Linked DNA regions of Homo sapiens. The protein of the gene in region 3 purifies or fractionates together with the protein of the main gene of each other region. This does not show direct contact. Each region holds a gene or a part of one and is shown on either strand. Other genes may lie near its edges. The genes, in order: HELZ, PAN2 and EBF3.

Region 1 (3,651 bases), on a different chromosome or scaffold from region 3:
TCCCTCAGAACAGAGCTTCTCAAAGGGTGTGCCATGGCACACTGGTATGCCCTGAATGAGTTAAAGATGGCCTAGACAGTGGTGGTCTTCTCAGCAATCCAAGCAGCCACAAAGAGACAACAGAAGGCCGGGCGCGGTGGCTCACACCTGTAATCCCAGCACTTTGGGAGGCCAAGGCGGGTGGATCACGAGGTCAGAAGTTCAAGACCAGCCTGAACAACATGGTGAAACCCCGTCTCTACTAAAAATACAAAAATTAGCAGGGCATGGTAGTGCGCACCTGTAATCCCAGATACTCAGGAGGCTGAGGCAGGAAAATCACTTGAACCAGGGAGGCGGAGGCTGCAGTGAGTCGAGATCGTGTCACTGTACTCCAGCCTGGGCAACAGAGCGAGACTCCCTCACAAAAAAAAAAAAAAGAGAGAGACAACAGAAGCCAGAACCCACAAATGGTCAAGCCTCAAGCAGTGTCCTGCTTCAACCCAGCACATGCCATCACAAGAACTTGAGAACCACTCAGAGGAGCAGTGATACAAAGGGGCTCACAGCAGATGCCCAATAAATACTTGCTGAACTGAATCCTGGAATAATCCATCTGTTCCCCTTCAAACACTCTTCCCAAGATCATTTACCATTTTGACCACACACTCTTTTTTTTTTTTTTTTTTTTTTTTGAGACGGAGTCTCCCTCTTTTGCCCAGGCTGTACGCAGTGGTGCTATCTCTATCTCGGCTCACTGCAAGCTCCACCTCCCGGGTTCACACCATTCTCCTGCCTCAGACTCCCGAGTAGCTGGGACTACAGGCACCTGCCACCACGCCCGGCTAATTTTTTGTATTTTTAGAAGAGACGGGGTTTCATCGTGTTAGCCAGGATGGTCTCGATCTCCTGACCTCCTGATCCGCCCGCCTTGGCCTCCCAAAGTGCTGGGATTACAGGCGTGAGCCACTGCACCCAGCCTCGACCACACACTCTTGTGAACAATTTTTACTGACCATATTATACCAGCCTTACCATTCAAAGCCTACAATAGTTAATTGCATAATATAGCAACTGATATCAACAAACAGTTCACCATAAAGAGGCTCAAATAGTTAAATTCAACATTATATAACAAAGAAATGAAAGTGCCATTTTACACTATTAAATTCACAAAAACTTCTGAAGAAAAATGGTTTTCTCTACTACTTATGGTAAAACAGGTATATCCATATATCTGTTAGGAGCACAAACTGGTATAACACCCTTGAAAACAGTAGGACAATATATGTGAGGAGCCATAAAAACACTGATACCCCTTAACATAATAACACACTCCAAAATTTATCCTTAAGATATCATTAGAAAAAATGCAACAGTATCTACAATGATGTAGATTAAAGTGTTAACTGAAAACCACCCAGACAGCAGTATAAATACTTCACATAAAAAGACTTAGGTAAATTGTAGCATGACTTGATGAAATTATTTTTGCAGCCTTTCAATATATAAAGTTAAATTATAAAATCTATAAGATGTAAATGTTTCATGATATAGTAAGTTTTTAAAAATCAAACTATAATGTATCATAATTTAAAATGAATTTTAAAATGTATATTTTGAAATGAAATGCCAAAAAGAAAATCAATTGTCTTAGGATAATAACCCAACATTTAACAATTTATTTATTATCAATTTATTCAACATTAAATAATAAAGTTCTACCCTACCAAGGAAATGAAGGGGTTCCAGGACACAAGCTTGATAAAGTCTCAAAAGGACCACCCCTCCCTTCTACTGCTCACTTTGGCCTTGACTGAGTGTTTTCATACTCTCCTTGGTCATGATGACCTATACTAACCCAAACCCCAGTTTTTCAAGGACCAGCCAACTGCCTCAATTGGTCCTCTGATCATCCCTATGAACCCGTGGGAGACAAATCATGCAAAACAAGCGAACACTCAAGAAACAAAGAACCTGGCCGGGCGTAGTGGTTCACGCCTGTAATCCCAGCACTTTGGGAGGCCAAGGCGGGTGGATCACCTGAGGTCAGGAATTCGAGACCAGTCTGACCAACATGGCAAAGTCCCAAGCTACTAGGGAGGCTGAGGCAAGAGAATCGCTTGAACCCAGGAGGCAGAGGTTGCAGTGAGCCGAGATCCCACCAGTGTACTCCAGCCTGGGCGACAGAGTGAGACTCTGTCTCGAAAAAAAACAATTTTTTTGATTTATTTATTAGTTTAACATTTATTACTTTAACAATTTACTTATTTATTACTTTAACCAATCAGCAAGTAGTCAGCCCAAGTTTCACTGTAAACCCTAAAAATATACAATATTGCCACATTAAAGTCTCTGGGATTCTCAAGGCTAACTTGCTGACTTAGCAGTGGACTGTATCAGTTAAAAGGCAGTGTGGACTCAGACAATCAAAGAACCAGGGGCCAGGAGACCTGAGAACAATTAAAAGCAAAATGTAGATAGATTTTTTTTTTAACTACAAAAAACACAAAGCTAAAAAGTCCAGCTTAAACCAGATGAGTAAAAAAATAGCTGGAGATATTCTTTTAAGTCTTAGCCAGAGTGCAAAAGGGAGGATGGAAAGTCATTTTATTAAGAGCTGAAGCTAGCCCGGCACAGTGGCTCACACCTGTAATCCCAGCTCTTTGGGAGGCCAAGGCGGGTGGATCACTTGAGGTCAGGAGTTCGAGACCAGCCTGACCAACATGGTGAACCCCCATCTCCAGTAAAAATACAAAATTAGTCAGGCGTGGTAGCGCACACCTATAGTCCCAGCTACTTGGGAGGCTGAGGCAGGAGAATCACTTGAACCCAAGAGGCAGAGGTTACAGTGAGCTGAGATCGCCCCATTGCACTCCAGCCTGGGCAACAAAAGCAAGACTCCATCTCAAAAAAAAAAAAAAAAAGACCTGAAGCTTTTTGCGGATGAAGATATCTCACAAAAGACAAGTACTGAAAATTCATGGCCAGGCATGGTGGCTCACACCTGTAATTCCAGCACTTTGGGAGGCCAAGGCAGGTGGATCATGAGGTCAGGAGTTTGAGACCAGCCTGGCCAACATAATGAAACCCCGTCTTTACTAAAAATACAAAAAAATTAGCCAGGCATGGTGGCAGGCACCTATAATTCCAGCTACTTGGGAGGCTAAGGTAAGGAGAATCGCTTGAACCTGGGAGGCAGAGGTTGCAGTGAGCTGAGATTGCACCACTGCACTCCAGCCTGGGCGACACTGCCAAGACTCTGTCTCTCAAAAAAAAAAAAAAAAAAAAAGGAAGAAAATTAATTTAAAAATAATTTTAGGTCGGGTGCGGTGGCTCACGCCTGTAATCCTGACACTTTGGGAGGCCGAAGCGAGTGGATCACCTGAGGTCAGGGGTTTGAGGCCAGCCTGGCCAACATGGTAAAGCCCTGGCTCTACTAAAAATACAAAAAGTAGCTGGGCATGGTGGCGGGCGCCTGTAATCCCAGCTACTCAGGAGGCTGAGGCAGGAGAATTGCTTGAACCCAGGAGGCGGAGGTTGCAGTGAGCCGAGATCGTGCCATTCATTGCACTCCAGCCTAGGTGACAAAAGCGAAACTCCGTCTCAAAAAAATAATAATAATTTTAACTCTGATGCCTCATAAGGAAAGTATTAAAAGCCTTCTAATTT
Region 2 (3,651 bases), on a different chromosome or scaffold from region 3:
TGAGGTCAGGAGTTTGAGACCAGCCTGCCCAACATGGTGAAACCCCGTCTCTACTAATTAGACACAAAAAAAAATTAGCCGGGCGTGGTGGCACATGCCTGTAATCCCAGCTACTTGGGAGGCTGAGGCAGGGGAATCGCTTGAACCCGGGAGGCAGAGGTCGCAGTGAGCTGAGATCATGCCATTGCACTCCAGCCTGGGCAACAAGAGCGAAACTCTGTCTCAAAAAAAAGAATAATTAGATGTAACATCATAACCTAAGCCATTCTGATCAAACATCCCCCCCTCATCTCATTTCCACTCCACTCTCAAGACTTACAGCTGCTTTTTTTTTTTTTTTTTTTTTTTAAGACAGGGTCTCAGGCTGGGCACTGTGGCTCACGCCTGTAAACCCAGCACTTTGGAAGGCCAAGGAGGGTGGATCACGAGGTCAGGAGTTCAAGACCAACCTGGCCAACATGGTGAAACCCTGTCTCTACTAAAAATACAAAAAATTAGCCGGACATGGTGGCAGGTGCCTGTAGTCCCAGCTACTCGGGAGGCTGAGGCAGGAGAACTGCTTGAACCCGGGAGGTGGAGGTCGCAGTGAGCCAAAATTGTGCCATTGCACTCCAGCCTGGGTGACAAGAGTGAAACTCTGTCCAAAAAAAAAAAAAAAAGCAGTCTCATCCTGTTGCCCAGGCTGGAGTACACTGGTGCAATCATGGCTCACTCACTGCAGCCTTGACCTCCTGGGCTCAAGTGATCCTCCCGCCTCAGCTTCTCCAATAGCTGGGACCACAAGTATATGCCACCACACTCAGCTAAATTTTTTTTTTTTTTTTTGAGACAGGGTTTCACTCTCGTCACCCAGGCTGGAGTGCAATGATGCAATCTTGACTCACTGAAATCTCTGACTCCCAGGCTGAAGTGATTCTCCTGCCTCAGCCTCCCAAGTAGCTGGGACAACAGGAGCACATCACCATACCCAGCTACTTTTTGTATTTTTTGTAGAGACAGGGTTTCACCATGTTGCCCAAACTGGTTTTGAACTCTTGAGCTCAAGTGATCTGCCCGCCTCAGCCTCCCAAAATGCTGGGATTACAGGCCATAAGCCACTGTGCCTGGCCTATACTAGGCTAATTAAAAAAAAAAAAAAAATTTTTTTAGGCTGGGTGTAGTTGCTCACGCCTGTAATCCCAGCACTTTGGGAGGCTGAGGCGGGCAGATCATGAGGTCAGGAGTTCGAGGCCAGCCTGACCAACATGGTGAAACCCTGTCTCTACTAAAAATACAAAAAAATTAGCCGGGTGTGGTGGTGGGCGTCTGTAATCCCAGCTACTCAGGAGGCTGAGGCAGGAGAATCGCTTGAACCCAGGAGGCAGAGGTTGCAGTGAGCCGAGATTGCGCAATTGCACTCCAGCCTGGGTGACAGAGCAAGACTGCATCTCAAAAAAAAAAAAAAAATTTTTTTTCAAAGAGATGGGATCTTGCTATGTTGCTCAGGCTGGATTTCGCACTTCTAAATTTAAGGTCTGATGAGCAGGAATCTCTTTAGTATCTCCAGAAATATTAACACTGGTTACCAATCCTAAGTACTTGCAAGCAATGTCCCAGATCTCACCCTGAAGCCCAATCTAAACTGTCCACACACTTGGGTCTACTATGTAGCACTTACTGTTCAGGTTGTATCTGGAATTGAGATTCCGTTTGACATAATAAAGGATTGCAGGTACTTTCCAATTCATGTCAAACTGCACAGCTTCATGCTATAGAAGAGAAAAAGCACTTATGGCTAATGTATATCACCCTTTTCCTTTTCCCCCACTTCAGACGGAGGCCAGGACTCAGGTGCTAGTTTTTGTTTTTTTTCAGGTGCTATTTTTAAGTGCTAATGGTTTTTATTCCTGAGGATTCCTTCCTCCCTCCCTGTTGAATCTGCCTGGCATTCTATAGAGCCCTAAAGATAAGGATGCTAGGAAAAGGGGAAATGAAAGAAGAAACAGAACATGTTGCAACTAACCTTATCAATAGGTTCAATAAGAAAGTCATTGAACAGATACCACTGCTGGTGAGTAACGCCCTATGGAAATACAAAGAAAGCCTGTGGCGATACAAATTGATGGCTGGACCACTCTGTCTCAGACTCAAGGACAGATCTGGGACTCACTGTGGCCATCCCAGGAGTGTTCCTGCCCTCTACAACCTCACTCACCTCCTTGCGCTGGTGGTAGGTCTCTCCAACTTTGATGTGAGCCACCAGGCTGCCCCCTGTGCGTGAGTCCAGGATGTGTACCACAGTAGCCATCAGGTCATACACATAGACACCATGCTCCTCCTCTGCCCTGGCTGGGCCCCACTGTGAGGGGGGTACCCAGGCTGCTAAGCTAAGTTTAAGGATGGGGAAGGGAGGGGAATGGGGACAGAGGACAGGGAGTTGGGGGTATGGGGGATGGGGGACCAGGGTGGGTTATCTCCATCCTAGCCCATCTAGGACCCCAACACTGAACTGAGTGACTATGGAAAATCCCCTAACAGGTAAATACTAGGCCTTATTCTCTTCCTTTTCCCTCTGCTAAGTTTCACCTTCCCCTGCCCTCCTTTACCTTCTGCCCCACCTTCTCTCCCTTATTCCCTTTCCTCTTCCCGGTTTTTCAACAACCTGCATCTCATCCCCATCAGTCCAATTGCAAACATCCAGCCCTTTGTTTTTGGTCATCTTCATGCGAATGGAGAAAGGAAGCCAGACGTTCTTCAACTCCTCAATGGAGGGACACACCAGCACACCCTCTGGACTCCCTAGTTCCTTCCTATCAGGTCAGAAGAATTGGAAATTTGTTCCGAAAGAGGTCTTGATAAGAGGAACCACTGGGCAATTCAATCCTTTGACAACTCCCAAGACAGCACCTACCAATCAGCCAAAGCAAATTCCTTGTTCTTGGAGATTTCCCCACCGTGTTTCTTTACTGCCATCTTGAAGGCAACCTGAACACAGAAGAAAAACATCCAGTTCTTCAGGAATGTAATCATATATGGAGGTCAGAAGGGGGATAAAATGAAAAATTATTCCGGAAGCCTTGTTTCTAGTCTGAGTCCTTACCTCAGCCTGCATTCTCCAGAAATCAGCCTCTTTTGAGCTGTTCACCTCACAATTGATGACAAGAATATCTGGCAGATGGCGGATGTTGCGGGTCTGAATCTGAGAGGAAGAAACAAACAAGGAATGGCAGGGAATGTACAGGAAAAGGAGTCTGGACAGGGACCTGGGTCTGCGTCTTCAAACTGGGATTCCTCACTCCACCAGAGATCCCTGGATGGCAGTGCTGACAGAGCCAGCCCCACATGGGATAGTGGCTGAATCTCCATGGCAGGACCAGGACTCTAGTCCAGTCCAACAGTCCACTCACCGTGGGCTGGTACTTTTCACAGGTGTCACACCAGGCCTGTGTATTCTGGTCCAGGCAGATGCTTCGCTTCAGCACCTGAGCAAAGTCATAGTTCTTCCCAGTTTTATCTGAGGGAAAATTAGATGCTATACTCCTGGTTCTCCCCTCTACCCACAGTTAGTCCCCAACACCCTCTCCCTGATATTACAGGACATTTTGGGGAGCCTTCCCAACTGAGCTGAAGGGTATACCACTTTTGCTACCATCAGGGTAGGAGAGTGTGAAA
Region 3 (3,651 bases):
TTGGCCAAGTTGCAGCTTCAGAACCCGGTCTGTGCAAATGAAACCCCTGATGTAACTTTTATGTTAGTGTTTAGTCATTTTAATAATCAAAAACAGAGAAAATTACCAAAAGTGAAATTCACAGACAAGAAATACTTTAATTAAATATTGTGTAAAATGAACATTTTTATACAGTTAAATATCTGAAAAAATGTACAGATAAAACAATCTTATTGTAGGGTCTTTAACAGTAAAATCTACCATTTAGTGAAGTGCTCAGTCTTGAGACAGTGAAGTGATGTGGGCATTGACTACTTAACCTAAAACACAAACCAAGTGAGGGCATGGGGAAGCTGGCAGGCGTTCTCAGTGCGTCCATGTGAGCTCTTTTGTAGATCAAACCCTTACTCGTACAAAATAAAATGGAGGCAATTTAGTTCCAAAGTGACTTCTCAGGCTTTCCCATGTAGCTAGACCTTGTCAACCATCACAAAGCCAGACTGTGACCTGCTGACTCCTGGGGACATTCTGTTTATTTAATTTTGTCCCTAGAATGAACACTTTGTAAGTTGTGCATTGTTGATTTTTGTCAAGAAGGTATTTTAAAGTCCCTCCTTTTTGTTTTAAATTCGATTTCTGCTGCAGTTTGCAAAATGTTTGCTGTGCCGTGTCTGCAAAGCACTTAGTGCAAAGGAGAAAGAAAAAAAAAAAAACACCTGACACTTTTGGTCTCACTGTGGGTTTGGCACTAAGAGGCACGATATCTGAAGGAGGTCATTCCAGTTTTAAAAGTACGGACAGTGCTGTTGGAACTGACCACAAAAATGTATTGTTAAAAAAAAATTGAAAACCAGCAGTGATTTGGGTCCCCCTGAAACCTCTGTGAATCGGAGGTGGGCCCAGGAGGGTGCAGGACGCAGCAGAAATAGTCCCAGAAAGGAGAGACGGGTCATGCAGCGGGCTTGTGCTTTTTTGTGTGTGTTTGTGTGTTTTACACCATACATCTCCAAATGAAGTATTTATTAACAATTGTAGTGTAAGCCTGTGATAAAATAGCACAAAGGTTCTTTAAAGAAGTTCACTTTTAAGGCATCAGAAAAGTTAATGTGGCAAACATTTTAATTAAAACATCAGAAGTAAATTTTATTTTAAACTTTAGGCCTCTGAATTTTTCCAGTAAACACAGTTCAGCTATGTGGCAAAGTCAATGGGTGGCATCTAAAATGACTTTTTACATTCTACAAAAAAATAAAATAAAATAAGGACACAGCCCCAAACGGTGTCACCTCTTCGCGGCCGCTCCACATGCACAGAATCTACTAGGATTTGTCACGGCCGGGTGGCACCGATTTGTTTTGACTATACAACAAACTTTTTTTTCAAAAGTATTTGTTCAGATAACTTAAAAATAATATAAAAATAAACAATGAATTTGACTTTTCCTCAAAATAAAAAAAAAAAGGATGGAAAGTCTAAACAATAGCATATTTTTTGAAGTACAAATGAAATGTAAAGACACTGGTTCAGCTTAACGAAACAGATCAAAGAGACAAGTTCTTGGCTAATGCTCTTCCCAGTATCACAACACCAGGCCGTGATCAAAAACCAATACAGACAAGAAAGAAGAAAAAGGAAAAGGTGGGAAAAGCAATGTACAAAATTTCAAAGATAAATACAATATTTATAATTGATATGTTACAAAATAAAGTCCCTTAGCAACTGCAAGTGTTCATGGGAAAGTAAGTGTCAAATGAAGACCATTTTATTCCTTATAAGACACATAAGGAATAAAACTTGTTTTTCTAAATATTTTAAGTGGATCTGAAAAAAATTCAAGACAAGTGTATAAATATTTAGCTACAACTTTGGCAAAATCACAAAAGTCTACAATTTTATAACCACATACAAAACACATTAGGGAAGAAGGATCTAGAAGTCAAAAGGACAATTTCTGGTACAAGAAACATAGACCTCACAGTAGCCTAAGAATGCAATAGTATACAGTGCTAGCAAAAGTTGAAAAAATGTTGCAGATCACACTTGCTTAACAGGAAGCTCTAGCAGTGGGAGAATATTGGAACCAACAGACAGTAGCATTTTTTCTCTGTCAGTGTGCTTGTTGAAGGCAAGAGAATTCAATATCAAAGTTACAATTTCTAACTACAATAAGTTACAAAGTTTCATTTCATGAAGATGAAGTTAAGCAGTGATAAACCCTCCCTCCCTCCCTGCCACCCCAGTTTCTCCTCATCATATAGTCATCCTTTTTTCCAGTCTGATGGCTCATACCTCCTTGGCCCTCTTTTTATCACCACAAAAAAATATTTCACATTATAGAGATACACAACCATTGTGAATCTAAGTATGAGTACAGAAAAATGTTTGGAGGCATTTTTCATCAGCGTTTCATGATCATCAAAATGGTGCATTCACAAAGTTTCTCCCAACACATAGCAATTACTAGACATGGCCAAGACGGAGTCGGAAACTTTATACAAAATAGGCGTCGCTTTGTTTTCCTTATTCTTCAGGACTGAGAAATGTGAAAATATGAGAAAAGTTCAGTCAATAAAATGGAATTGTTCATGAAGAAGTAGGCTGTTTGCATGTTGATTCTTAATAGTTTAAATAAAATCTTTAAACAAAGTCTTTTGTAGCATTTCAATTGCTGCTGATTTTTTTGAAGATACTGTTTCCATCAGCATGTCTTAATATACTAAACGTGTCCCCTGAAGTCCGTCCTTTGATGCTGGGTGCTGCGGAAGGTAAACAGAAGTCCCTCACATTGGCGGGACTACCAGCCCAGACATAGCTGCAAGACAGAAGGACAGAGCAGTTACTGCAGGCTCCCCCACGCGCCCTCCCGCCAACGCTGACGCGGGCGGGGCTGCCCTTCCCCCCTATTCAACTGGGAGGCTGGTCTTGCACAGTTCCGTCCACCAGCCTCGGGCGTGGTTAGGGCGTGCTGGGGAATCTGCTTCCTGAGGTGGGGGCACACGTGGGGACAACAACCCCCAGTCCTGCCCCTCCTGCAGCCCTCCTCAAAGGCTTCTTTAAAGGCTTCTTTTGGAAAAGGGAAGGGCTCCTGGCACTGCTGTGTGCAGAGGCTGCAGCTTCCCCACACTGACCGGTGCACTGCCAACAGGTGCAAAGCCAACGGAGGCCCGGAGCCCCCTCTGTCGAGAGAGGTGACCCAGCCTGGTCACTCCCGTGACGCCAGTCAAGGCCGGCTCACAGGCCCTGCTCTCGCTCCCTATGTGAGAACCAGACTGGCCTCAGTTTCCCCCTCTGCTTCCAGGTCTGGGCTCTGACCGTGCGGTCATCTCTCTGTATCGTAATGGTGAGTCAGGGGCTCTCCAGAATCAAAGCCACTCACAGCCCACCTGCCCTGGAACCTCCAGGCAAGGGCCACGGAGAGACGTGAGTCATGGCACCGCCTCGGGACCTTTTTTCTCTTCTCAGGAAAGAAGAGAAAACTTTGCACGAAAACGCCAAGTGGGGCTGACGCTTTCACATGAACTCCTGGTACGAATGTAATTTAAAATCTTTTACCGCTGGTGTTGTTTAATTTTTGTCAGAATGATCGTTCTCATTAATTTATGTATAACATATTAATACATTTGTTCATGTAGTGACGTGAGCTTCAATTTCTCAGTTCATTAATTTCAACAA

The links.
Region 1: the proteins of EBF3 (region 3) and HELZ purify together in Homo sapiens (affinity purification with mass spectrometry, with the first as the bait; one large-scale study listed by BioGRID). This does not show direct contact.
Region 2: the proteins of EBF3 (region 3) and PAN2 purify together in Homo sapiens (affinity purification with mass spectrometry, with the first as the bait; one large-scale study listed by BioGRID). This does not show direct contact.

What each region holds. Positions count from the first base shown.
Region 1 is NC_000017.11:67,235,100-67,238,750, forward strand, and holds part of HELZ (probable helicase with zinc finger domain), read right to left. Parts: intron 1-3,651. UniProt on the Homo sapiens protein: May act as a helicase that plays a role in RNA metabolism in multiple tissues and organs within the developing embryo.
Region 2 is NC_000012.12:56,320,421-56,324,071, forward strand, and holds part of PAN2 (PAN2-PAN3 deadenylation complex catalytic subunit PAN2), read right to left. Parts: coding exon 3,629-3,651; coding exon of another isoform or gene 3,617-3,628; intron 3,494-3,616; coding exon 3,387-3,493; intron 3,179-3,386; coding exon 3,080-3,178; intron 2,965-3,079; coding exon 2,891-2,964; intron 2,790-2,890; coding exon 2,642-2,789; intron 2,339-2,641; coding exon 2,195-2,338; intron 2,063-2,194; coding exon 2,003-2,062; intron 1,749-2,002; coding exon 1,658-1,748; intron 1-1,657. UniProt on the Homo sapiens protein: Catalytic subunit of the poly(A)-nuclease (PAN) deadenylation complex, one of two cytoplasmic mRNA deadenylases involved in general and miRNA-mediated mRNA turnover.
Region 3 is NC_000010.11:129,835,170-129,838,820, forward strand, and holds the end of EBF3 (transcription factor COE3), read right to left. Parts: intron 2,792-3,651; coding exon 2,774-2,791; coding exon of another isoform or gene 2,760-2,773; 3' UTR 64-2,759; downstream 1-63. UniProt on the Homo sapiens protein: Transcriptional activator. Recognizes variations of the palindromic sequence 5'-ATTCCCNNGGGAATT-3'.